3 linked regions of the Homo sapiens genome follow. The protein of the gene in region 3 purifies or fractionates together with the protein of the main gene of each other region. This does not show direct contact. Each region holds a gene or a part of one and is shown on either strand. Other genes may lie near its edges. The genes, in order: IFT46, TCP10L and ZYG11B.

The links.
Region 1: the proteins of ZYG11B (region 3) and IFT46 purify together in Homo sapiens (affinity purification with western blotting; one study listed by BioGRID). This does not show direct contact.
Region 2: the proteins of ZYG11B (region 3) and TCP10L purify together in Homo sapiens (co-immunoprecipitation; one large-scale study listed by IntAct). This does not show direct contact.

What each region holds. Positions count from the first base shown.
Region 1 is NC_000011.10:118,555,884-118,559,535, forward strand, and holds part of IFT46 (intraflagellar transport protein 46 homolog), read right to left. Parts: intron 2,008-3,652; coding exon of another isoform or gene 1,855-2,007; intron 1,163-1,854; coding exon 1,023-1,162; intron 1-1,022. UniProt on the Homo sapiens protein: Forms part of a complex involved in intraflagellar transport (IFT), the bi-directional movement of particles required for the assembly, maintenance and functioning of primary cilia. May play a role in chondrocyte maturation and skeletogenesis.
Region 2 is NC_000021.9:32,575,472-32,579,123, reverse strand, and holds part of TCP10L (T-complex protein 10A homolog 1), read left to right. Parts: intron 1-292; coding exon 293-430; intron 431-2,200; coding exon 2,201-2,350; 3' UTR 2,351-3,652. Other genes in the region: CFAP298-TCP10L (uncharacterized protein LOC110091775), read left to right, coding at 293-430, 2,201-2,350. UniProt on the Homo sapiens protein: May be involved in transcriptional regulation. Has in vitro transcription inhibition activity. Acts as a tumor suppressor in hepatocellular carcinoma (HCC) cells.
Region 3 is NC_000001.11:52,767,838-52,771,489, forward strand, and holds part of ZYG11B (protein zyg-11 homolog B), read left to right. Parts: intron 1-3,182; coding exon 3,183-3,652. UniProt on the Homo sapiens protein: Serves as substrate adapter subunit in the E3 ubiquitin ligase complex ZYG11B-CUL2-Elongin BC. Acts to target substrates bearing N-terminal degrons for proteasomal degradation with the first four residues of substrates being the key recognition elements.

The sequences.
Region 1 (3,652 bases), on a different chromosome or scaffold from region 3:
CTGCACTCCAGCCTGGGTGACAAAGCAAGACTCTGTCTCAAAAAAAAAAAGAGATTTAAATATCTGACATGAAAATAGTTTGCACCAGAAAAAAAAAATTATAGAAGTGTTTTTAGCAGTGTTATTATTATTTTTTAAATTTAATTAATTTATTTTTGAGACAGGGTCTCACTCTGTTGACCAGGTTGGAGTGCAGTGACCCGATCATAGCTCATTGCAGTCTCAAACTCCTGAGCTCAAGTGATTCTCCTGCCTCAGCCTCCCGAGCAGCCGGGACTATGGGCACACACCAGCATGCTCAGCTAATTTTTAAAAAATTTTTGGGCGGCCGGGTGCAGTGGCTCACGCCTGTAATCCCAGCACTTTGGGAGGCCGAGGCGAGCGGATCACGAGGTCAGGAGATCGAGACCATCCTGGCTAACACGGTGAAACCTCGTCTCTATTAAAAATACAAAAAAAATTAGCTGGGCGTGGTGGCGGGCACCTGTAGTCCCAGCTACTCAGGAGGCTGAGGCAGGAGAATGGCGTGAACCCAGGAGGCGGAGCTTGCAGTGAGCCGAGATCACGCCACTGCACTCCAGCCTGGGCGATAGAGCAAGACTCTGTCTCAAAAAAAAAATAAAATTTTGTAGAGACGAGGTCTTGCTATGTTGCCCAGGTTGGTCTTGAACGCCCAGCCTTAAGCAATCCTCCTACCTCAGCCTCCCAAAATGCTAGGATTACAGGCTTGAGCCACCATGCCTGGCCACCACCTTTTTGATTTACTCAGCAAAATCTCATGTAACCCCCAAGCCCACAAACGTTTCAGATAGTAAAGTGATACTATAGGACTGGATAAGGTAGTGGAGTCAGAAAGGGAGGAAAACTCATTATTATGTTGGGTTTCTGAGACATCTGAAAATCCTAAATACAGGAGATCAAAAGAGATGCTGGAATTTCACTTCTAACTGACGTCCTCCCACTCCAGTGTTTTGAAGGAGGTATTCTGAAGAGCACCCTTGGCTTGGGTGTTCTTTCCTCACCCTTCCAGAGGGGCTCCATGCTCTTCATCATCATCATCAGAATCAGAATCAGTTTCAGATGAATCATCATCATCATCATCGTCATCCTCATTTTCACTAAAGCCCCGTTGAGGTGTCAACTGTGAGGTCTTCTTCTTCTCCTGTGATAGGGCAGGGCAGGCATAGAAAGCTTCAAGTAAAAAAATCAAATGTACCTATGCCCAGTTCTCTATTGCTCTAACCAATACACCAACCACCTGGCACCTCGTCACCAGAAAGAGAAGGGGGCACTTCCCAGAAGGGGCTTGAGAGCCTTCTTCTGCCCCTGCTCAGCTACAAATGGGGACTCCACTTTCTAGAACCCTATTCCATTTCTCTACTTGAGGCTGGGGTATAAATTCTAATTTTATCTATTGTACATATTACTTAGATCTTCAGGGCCCTGTGTACACTTTAGACAGCTTCGGCCCGAAAAGCTATGGACTTTCAAAGAAGAGGATGGCAACTCTAGTTATTTTGGAAGAAAATCAGGGAATATGAAGTGGGAATAGAAATTTTAGGGGTCTTAATACTCACAAAGACCATAGAGAGGAAATCTAATACTTAATTTGCAAGACTGCCCAGCATAAGCTGCTTGAAACTATCAAAAGAAGAAAGTTCAAAATCAACCTTGTGCCCATCAAACCAGCAGTCCCAGGGACTATGGACTTTCCATTTTTGTTCAGTGATATTTCTCTTCATGGAGTATCTGACCTATCTGTATTTCCCTTCCCTTACCCCATAAATTACATAAAATGACTACACATTCTCTCTCAAGATAAACAGCTCTTTTGTTCTTGACATTATAACCTACCTTTCTGTGCTTCTGGCTCTCTCTGTACCATCCCACCCTCTCAAGTACATGAGAAGGGGTCTGGTGGCACTTGAGACTTGCAGGGGCAGGTGGAACAGGGTCCATGTCTTTGCCTCTGTGGCCTGGAGCCTGTGGCATGCCCTCCCTTAGGACCTGAAGGATGACCAATTGGCCCCCTTTAAAAGTAGGTTTTCAAAACTTGGTTTCTATATACCGTATGGCTTATACTGAGGTTAACACGTTTGATTCCAGTTGTTTAAAATTAATTTGTTTTTATGGTAAAGCAGCTATTGGCACACAAAATTGTGACACGTTACAGGACACCAAAAACTGCTTTTAGTCACATTTTGCTCTAAGAATAACAAATTTATTATACATAAAGTATATTCTAACTAAGCTGTAATATGCATGGCAGATAATGAAACACAGTTGCAGAATTTATTCAGTGACTATGCCTTATTAGTATATGACTGATAAGAACTTTCTAGAGCATTCTTTCTCAATTCAAGATTTGCCAAAATTATCCTTAGTCACATAGGAAGCAGTTTTGGCAGAGGGAACTTTTAAGAATATTGTCAGCCCGGGGTGGTGGCTCATGCCTGTAATCCCAGCACTTTGGGAGACCGAAGCAGGCGGATCATGTGGTCAGGAGTTCGAGACCAGCCTGACCAACATGGTGAAACCCCATCTCTACCAAAAATACAAAAATTAGCCAGGCGTGGTGGCGCACGCCTGTAATCCCAGCTACTCAGGAGGCTGAGGCAGGAGAATTGCTTGAACCCTGGAGGCGGAGGTTGCAGCGAGCTGAGGTCATGCCACTACACTCCAGCTTAGGCAACAGAGCGAGATGACTCTGTCTCAAAACAAAAACAAAAACCATTAAAATGCAGCCATCAGGCTGGGTACAGTGGCTCACACCTGTAATCCCAGCACTTTGGAAGGCCAAGGCAGGAGGATCACCTGAGGTCAGGAGTTCAAGACCAGTGTGGCCAACATGGCAAAACCCCATCTCTACTAAAAATACAAAAATTAGCCAGGCGAGTTGGTGCAGGCCTGTGATCCCCCAGCTACTCGGGAGGCTGAGGCATGAGAATTGCTTGAACCCAAGAGGCAGAGGTTGCAGTGAGTCAAGATCACTGCACTCCAGCCTGGGTGAAAGAGCAAGACTCTGTCTCAAAAAAAAAAAACAAACAAAAAAAACAGGCTGGGCACAGTGGCTTGTGCCTGTAATCCCAGCACCTTGGGAGGCCTCCCAAGTAGCTGGGATTACAGGCACCCGCCACCACGCCCAGCTAATTTTTTGTATTTTTATTAGAGATGGGGTTTCGCCATGTTGGACAGTCTGGTCTCAAACTCCTGACCTCAGGTGATCCGCCCGCCTCGGCCTCCCAAAGTGCTGGGATTACAGGAGTGCGCCACCACACCCGGCCAACATAAACGGTTTTTAAGAAATCATATGTGCAACTCTAAGGTCCTATATGTTTCTAGAGAGGTGGGCCTCTTGCCATGTTTCTTTCAGAAGCAGGGTGATTCTCTAGGTACACAGAATAACAGCAGCCAACATCTGGGTCTTAAGACCTCAAAATTAAAATCTCCTTCACAAAATACTGGCAGTATCACAAGTATTGACAATGAAAAAATGCCTAGACTGATAATTTCAAACTCGCTTTAGCATAAAATTACCTGGACTGCTTCCTAAAAAATATAAATTCCCAGGCTTTTACTTTTGAGATTCTGGGCTGGGACTGGGAATCCGTATATTTAAAAATAAGTACCTCAGTTGAGTATTATGATCAGG
Region 2 (3,652 bases), on a different chromosome or scaffold from region 3:
AGATATGTTGGGGATTGTTTGTTCTGTAGCCTTTGGGATCCTGTGATCATTTTGAAACAAGGAACCACAATAAGAAACACAAAGCAAACATCGGCTCCACAAAGGTTCCTTCACAAACGCTTGGTGAGGGTTTCTGTTCTTATCAACATATTAGGGGGAAAACCCAGTCCAAGTCCCCCTACCTTGTACCCTATTTTTTTCTAGGACATTCCAATTATTCTTCATTGTATTAAAATTTGAATTTATTTTACCTTCGAAAATGTGAAGAATTTCCCTGCATTTTGTCTTTTAGGCATTGGAACCTGCTTTTGGAAAAATTTCACCTCTGTCAGCTGATGAAGAGACAATACCCAAATACGCTGGCCACAAGAATCAGAGTGCCACTCTCCTGGGACAAAGATCGTCATCTAACAATTCAGCTCCTCCAAAGGTGACCCTTTGTGCTTATCATCTGTAAAGAGAAGCAGAGGTTCTGTACCCAAACACACACATCCCATCAGCTCCTCACCACACAATTTCACCTCCCTGGGTGAGCATGGTGCTCCCTGGAGTCCTGTGTTCTTCCAAGGACACGGGTACATGCCTTTCAAACAAGATCCTAACCCTTAGCACTTCTTGCTGTGGAGCAGATTCCAAGTCCTCCCGGCTGCTTCCCTCTGAGTACACTCACAGCAGCAAGCGTCTGGCTGGGGCCGAGGGGACTTGGGGGCTTTGTTTCCGTGGGTGCAGGCTGCGGAGGTGATGTGTGTGGCACTGTCTCCACCCGTGAGTCTGAGGGCTCGCAGCCTCCCGTGCTCCCTGCTTCTGCACTGCGGTCTTGCACCTGCTGCTTGTCGGCGTGGACTCCTCTGAACAGGGGTGGCGCTGTTAGCTTGGGAGCCACAGTACAGGATGCTATTTTGTCTCTTGTTGGGAATAGGCCCCCAGATCTGGCCATAAACTGGCCCCAAAACTGGCCACAAACAAAATCTCTGCAGCACTGTGACATGTTCGTGATGGCCATGATGCCCACGCTGAAGGTTGTGGGTTTACCAGAATGATGGCAAGGAACACCTGGCCCACCCAGGGTGGAAAACCGCTTAAAGGCGTTCTTAAACCACAAACAGTAGCATGAGCGATCTGTGCCTTAAGGACATGTTTCTGCTGTGGATATCTAGCCAGAGCCCATCCCTTTGTTTTGGCCCATCCCTTTGTTTCCCATAAGGAATACTTTTAGTTAATCTATAATCTATAGAAACAATTTATCACTGGCTTGCTGTCAATAAATATGTGGGTAAATCTCTGTTCACGGCTCTCAGCTCTGAAGGCTGTGAGTGCCCTGATTTCCCACTCCACATGCTATACTTCCGTGCGTATGTCTTTAATTCCTCTAGCACTGCTGGGTTAGGGTCTTCCTGACCGAGCTGGTCTCGGCAGTCTCTATCACATTTTTCTTTGTTAAAATTAGCTCCTCTTTAGAACATTCTCCCAGCCAGTGTGTCTCTTCCTGTCCCAGCTTTGTGTCACCCTCATACTCAGGAAGCAAATCTCGTGAGTCCACAGCCAGCAACTGATACTGGGTTGATGTGGATGGAGAAGGCGCCCCCAACTCCTGAAGATGATTTATCCCCTCGCATTCTTTCCCAAAGCAACTGCTGAGCAGATAACACTTTATTCCCTGAAGGAAGATCAGAAATCTACTCCAAGCATTTGTCACAAGTAGGAAAAGAGCCTTTTCAGATCCTATGAGTACAAAACATCGTAAGTCCCAGGGTGGACTGCACAGGCCCAGCCTCCTGTGAGACGCGGACTTCTCTCATGCTCCATCATTGACCTGAGTTAATCACAGGCATGCGGGGCAATGTACGAGTAAATAGATAACTGAATGGGTGGCTTATCCACGCCTTGAAACCATCAATTGTTAAATAGTGCAAAATGTAGAAAATTATTTTTATTATGCATTTTTGAATTGAGTTTCAAGCACTTTATTTCACTGTTGACTTTACAATATCAGCCATGTATTGGAATCCCAAATTTCACAAGAGCGTGGGCTGTAAAATGGGGAATGAGAGACACTAAGTGTGGATACCTCATGTGTCCTTCTGTAGGAAGGGGGAGTAGAATCATCTACATTCTGTGATAGCTGGTATGATGTGTTGCTTAACATTTAAAAATAATATAATTGTTACTAATGCAAAAATATTCCCACATTTGTTTTCAGCCAATGAGTTTAAAGATAGAAAGAATTAGCTCGTGGAAAACACCACCACAGGAAAATAGAGATAAAAATCTTTCCAGGAGACGTCAAGACAGAAGAGCAACACCTACTGGAAGGCCAACTCCCTGTGCAGAGAGACGGGGGGGTGTCTGAAGATGGAAAGGTGGCCTCGGACACCTGTGTCACTCTACACTGGCCCCTTGGAAAATTCAGATTCAGATAAAGTTCCACTTAGGTCTAATAAAAGTACTCAATTTGTTATTCAAAATAGACCTAGTAATTTATTAAACTAATTATGTTTCTATAGATAAAAACTTGAAGTTCTTCAGACATGTCTCTAATGCTATAAAAGCAAACAACTTGGATTGGGTTTTATAAATCAGTTGCTTTCCTGAGCTCTGTAGTTGGTATATTTCTGCAGAGTCTTTAAAAAAATTAACCCACCTTGTAGTATGGAGTGTCGGGCTGTTGGGTGAGCCCTGGGGTCTTGCTGGAAATCGAGGATGGCTGAAGATGGCTTTGTGCTCCCAGCCTTTGGGCTCAAGGCATTGCCCGCTCCAGGGACCTTGTGACAAGGCGGGCCTGTGACTGTCATTGCCCCAGGCTATGCATCCATCTTCCCGAAGTCTGCAAAACTTGAGTGGCAGAAAATCACCAGTGCAGGCTTCCCAGGCCGCCATGCTGCAGGAGCAGATGGCAGCAGCCGGAGGAGCTGGTGAGCAGAGTTGGGGACTCCTGTTTCTATGCTCCCCGTGAAATGCGGGGCTTTCTCGTGGATACGCGTGAGCAGAACATCTTACTATGGCAAGGACATGTCCTTCCTGGAGCTGCCTAATTTGTGGCCACTTTTTGTCTGATTCCCTCGTTGGGTCCTCACCTGTGAGACTTGCCAACACCCCCAGCCCTCCACCCCACACACAGCCCACATGCCGGTCTCCAGGGGCCGTGACTGGAGATTCCGAATCCTAGCGGTCACTTCCCTCTGAGCACACTCCCAGCAGAAGGCGTGTGGCTGGGGCTAGATGCACTTGGGTGCTTTGTTCCCCTTTCTCCATTTGCCAGCCCATGGCATTGCTGCCACCCTGATGGAGCGCCCTCTCATCTGGCACCTTCCTGGCCTCTTTCCCAGGCCCCAGTTCTGTCCATGCAGCTGTGGGTGCTTCCTGCATTGCGGGTCTCACGGGGAGGAGACGAGAGTGCCCCTGGTTGAGTCAGGAAAGAATTCTATCTTCACGTCGCTGCCAGCAAATGACCACAGCAGCTTCACGACCTCTGCAGGAACCTATCTTGGTAAAGAAACGGGGCCTATGTGGTGGCCGAGCCTCAGGTGTGGCCGAGCTTCAGGTGTGGCCCTTATGCACAGCACAGCCCAAGCCTGTGGGCACCACTCGCCCTGGGCTGCCTGGCACCTGGACTCCTTCCCATCCTTGGCCGAGGTCTGCGTGGCCCTTCAGG
Region 3 (3,652 bases):
GACTTCCTATGACAGCACCCCAGCAGGGAAGCAGGTAGAGAACTTCATCGCTGCTTGATGAGTGTTGAAGTTCAGGCTCCCCAGAAGGTATCTACTAACATCGTGGTGGGGGATAGTTCTTACTACCCAGCAGGAATGAAAGTCCTTGCTCTCTACTCAGACTTCTCTAACACCTCCCCTGTGGGCAGATTGGGGCAAGTAATTACAGCCTGGCAGGGGTAGAAATCTAGGCCCCTATTGGCATTTGCTGGCATGGGTGGAGCTGCAGTTTTTTCTGTCGTGTTTGGCTGAAGTAGAGCAGTTACTGTCTACTAGCTGTTTCCTGTCTTACTAGTTGCTGCTTTCCTGGTACGTTGGCTAGAGAGAGCAGATTTTGGGGGAGGTTTTTGTCTGTGCCCATTGGTGTTTCCAGGCTGCTGGCTCCTTCAACTTTAGATCTGGGATATATGACCAGAAAAAAACCAGGAACTTTTCTGCGTTGTTCCATGGGTCCCAAGGTCCCCCCTAGCTGATCTGCTTTCATCTCTTCACCTTTCAGAGTGATCTAGCTCCAGCTCACCTTCAGCCTCATTTCTTCTGTCCCATTTGCATGCTTATATCCCCAGAAATGCACTGCATCTATGGCTCTAGCTATTTCTTATGTTCAAGCAATATAGAAAGAACTACTTGCCATTTCCTAACCCCGTGATATGCTTTCACATCTTTAAGACTTTGCTTATGTTGTATATTCTTGCTTTAATATACCTAACCTTCTTCCTCTTTTTTTTTTTTTTTTGAAATGGAGTCTTGCTCTGACGCCCAGGCTGGAGTGCAGTGGCGCCATCTCGGCTCACTGCAGCCTCCGCCTCCCAAGTTCGAGTGATTCTCTGCCTCAACCTCCCAAGTAGCTGGTATTACAGGCGCGCACCACCACACCCATTTAATTTTTGCATTTTTAGTAGAAACGCGGTTTTGCCACGTTGGCCAGGCTGGTCTCGAATTCCTGGCCTCAGGTGATCCATCCGCCTCGGCCTCCCAAAATGCTGGCATTATAGGCATGAGCCACTGCACCTGGCCTACTAACCTCCTTTCTCTATCTTTGAATTCTTCCAGCATTTTCAAAGGCCTTACTCAAAGATCACCTCTCCCATCAAATCTTTTCCAGATCTTCATTCATGATGGTTTACTTCCTTTTCTTTGTTTTTGTGATACTTTATACTTGACATTGATATACCATATATCTCATTTTGTTATGGCTGTTTGTGTCTTTTTTACTCCATGGGATTATGAATCCTTTGACTATAGGGGCATATCTTATTTTTCTTTGTATCTACAACATTTAGAGTACTTGACATATAGTAATTGTTTAATAAACTGTTTGCTGAATGGACCCCATCATGAAATTTACTCTCCTGAAATAGAGTGCAGGTAATTTGAAAGGCTGTCTCTAGAACTACATTGTTTAATCGAAATGTAATTTTAAATTTACCGGTGGCCACATAAAAAAATAAAAAGAAAAACAAGTGCAACGAGTTTTAATAATTTTTATTTAACCCAATATATTAAAAAATGATCATTTCAACCTGTAGTATATATAAAAAATTGAGATACTTTACATTATTTTGTTGTATTAAGTCTTCACAATCTGGTGTATATTTTGTACTTTATAGCTGACCTCACTTTGTACCACCTGCTTTCCAAGTGCTCTCCAGCTGTGTGGAGCTAGTGACTATGTATTGGGCAGCACAGCTCTAAAATGTAATGGAGTTCTTAATATGTAATTAGTCATTTTTGTCCACTTTGGCAGGTTTTGCACAGGCCTTTCTTGATTTTAACTGTGTAACTGTAATTAAGTCTGCAAAACTCATTAGAGAATAGTGCTCCCTTTTAAAAACACCTCATTTCTAATTTAAGGGTGACTGGCTGGCAGCCTAGCTGCATTTTGAGTATGGGCCAGCTAAGATGCCGCCTTAGAGTTCCTCTCATGACTTCAGGCTATTTATTTACCTGTCCTCAACTGCTCATTCACCCCATACTATTCTTAGACTACCTGTTTTTGGCATGATTGTTACTTCTTTCACAGTCAATGTTGTTTAGTTGATATGTGATATGTTGATGTGCCTCCAGAGTATCATATGCTTGTGACACTGTTGATTGGTAGACAGGTAGATCTCGAAGGCACTTCAAGAGGTTACTGTGTCGACTTCATTTACATTCATCTGCAGGAGGGGGAGTGTGGGGGGAAGCTGTAACTACTATATATATATATATATATATTTTTTTTTTTTTTTCAGAGACAGGTTCTCACTCTGTCACCCAGGCTGGTGTGCAATGGTGCAATCATAATTCACTATAACCACAAACTCCTGGGCTCAAATGATCCTTCCATCTCAGCCTCCCTAGTAGCTAGGACTATAGGCATGACCACTGTGCCCAACTCGTTTTCAGTTATTTTGCAGAGATGGGGTCTTGCTATGTTTCCCAGGCCTAGATCGCTTTAATAAGGTTTGAGATCTGGCTAGTGGTTTATTAATGAATTACAAGGCATTAAGTGCATGCTAAATATATTATGTGTATATGTGTTTGTATAATAATATGTTAAGGTGAATTTAAAGGATAGGCTAGAAATGTATTGGTAACAAATCAAATACCTTAACACAAGGTTTATACCTCACTTGTGGTACATAAACTCTGCAAGTCCATAGAGGATTCTGCTTCATGGTCACCCTAGGGTCCAAACTGATGGAGGGTTTCTCCTCATATAACTATACTCTCTAGAACGTGAAGTCTCCTCGTTTGTCATAGCAGGAAAAGACAGCATGGAAAATCATGCACTGGCTCTCAGGTGCTTCAACATATAGTGCATTGGCCAGAACTAGGCACATGGCTCCAGCTAACTCCAGGGATGGGCTGGGAAATGTAGTTGTCTGGTAAGGTAAGAACTAGATGTTAGTGGATATCAATAATGTCTGCCACAGTCCTGATTCTGCCACTTGCTAGCCCTGTGATCTTGGAAAGCCACTCTCTGAGCCCCAGTTTACTCATCTACAAGTTGTAAACAATAATAATCTCACCTAAATGAATTGTGATTATCAGACGAGATACTGTTACATGGGAGCGCTTTGGAAATGTAAAGTGTGATGGAAATTTTGGCTATTCTTTAACTGTTTTTTGAATTTAAAACGCTGCTTGTTTTTCCACAGGTCTATTGAATGATGGAACTGTGGGTATTTTTAGGGGCAACCAGATGCGCTTAAAGCGAGCCTGCATTCGCAAAGCAAAGATCTCTGCTGTTGCTTTCCGGAAAGCTTTCTGCCACCACAAGTTAGTGGAACTTGATGCCACAGGTGTGAATGCTGATATCACGATTACAGACATTATCAGTGGGCTTGGCAGTAACAAATGGATCCAGCAGAATCTCCAGTGCCTGGTGCTGAATTCATTAACTCTCTCCCTCGAGGATCCTTACGAGCGCTGCTTCAGCCGGCTTTCTGGCCTTCGAGCTTTAAGCATCACGAATGTTCTCTTTTACAATGAAGACCTGGCTGAAGTTGCCTCATTGCCAAGATTAGAGAGCTTGGATATTTCTAACACCTCAATCACAGACATCACTGCTCTACTGGCCTGCAAAGACCGACTCAAGTCTCTAACCATGCACCACTTGAAATGTTTA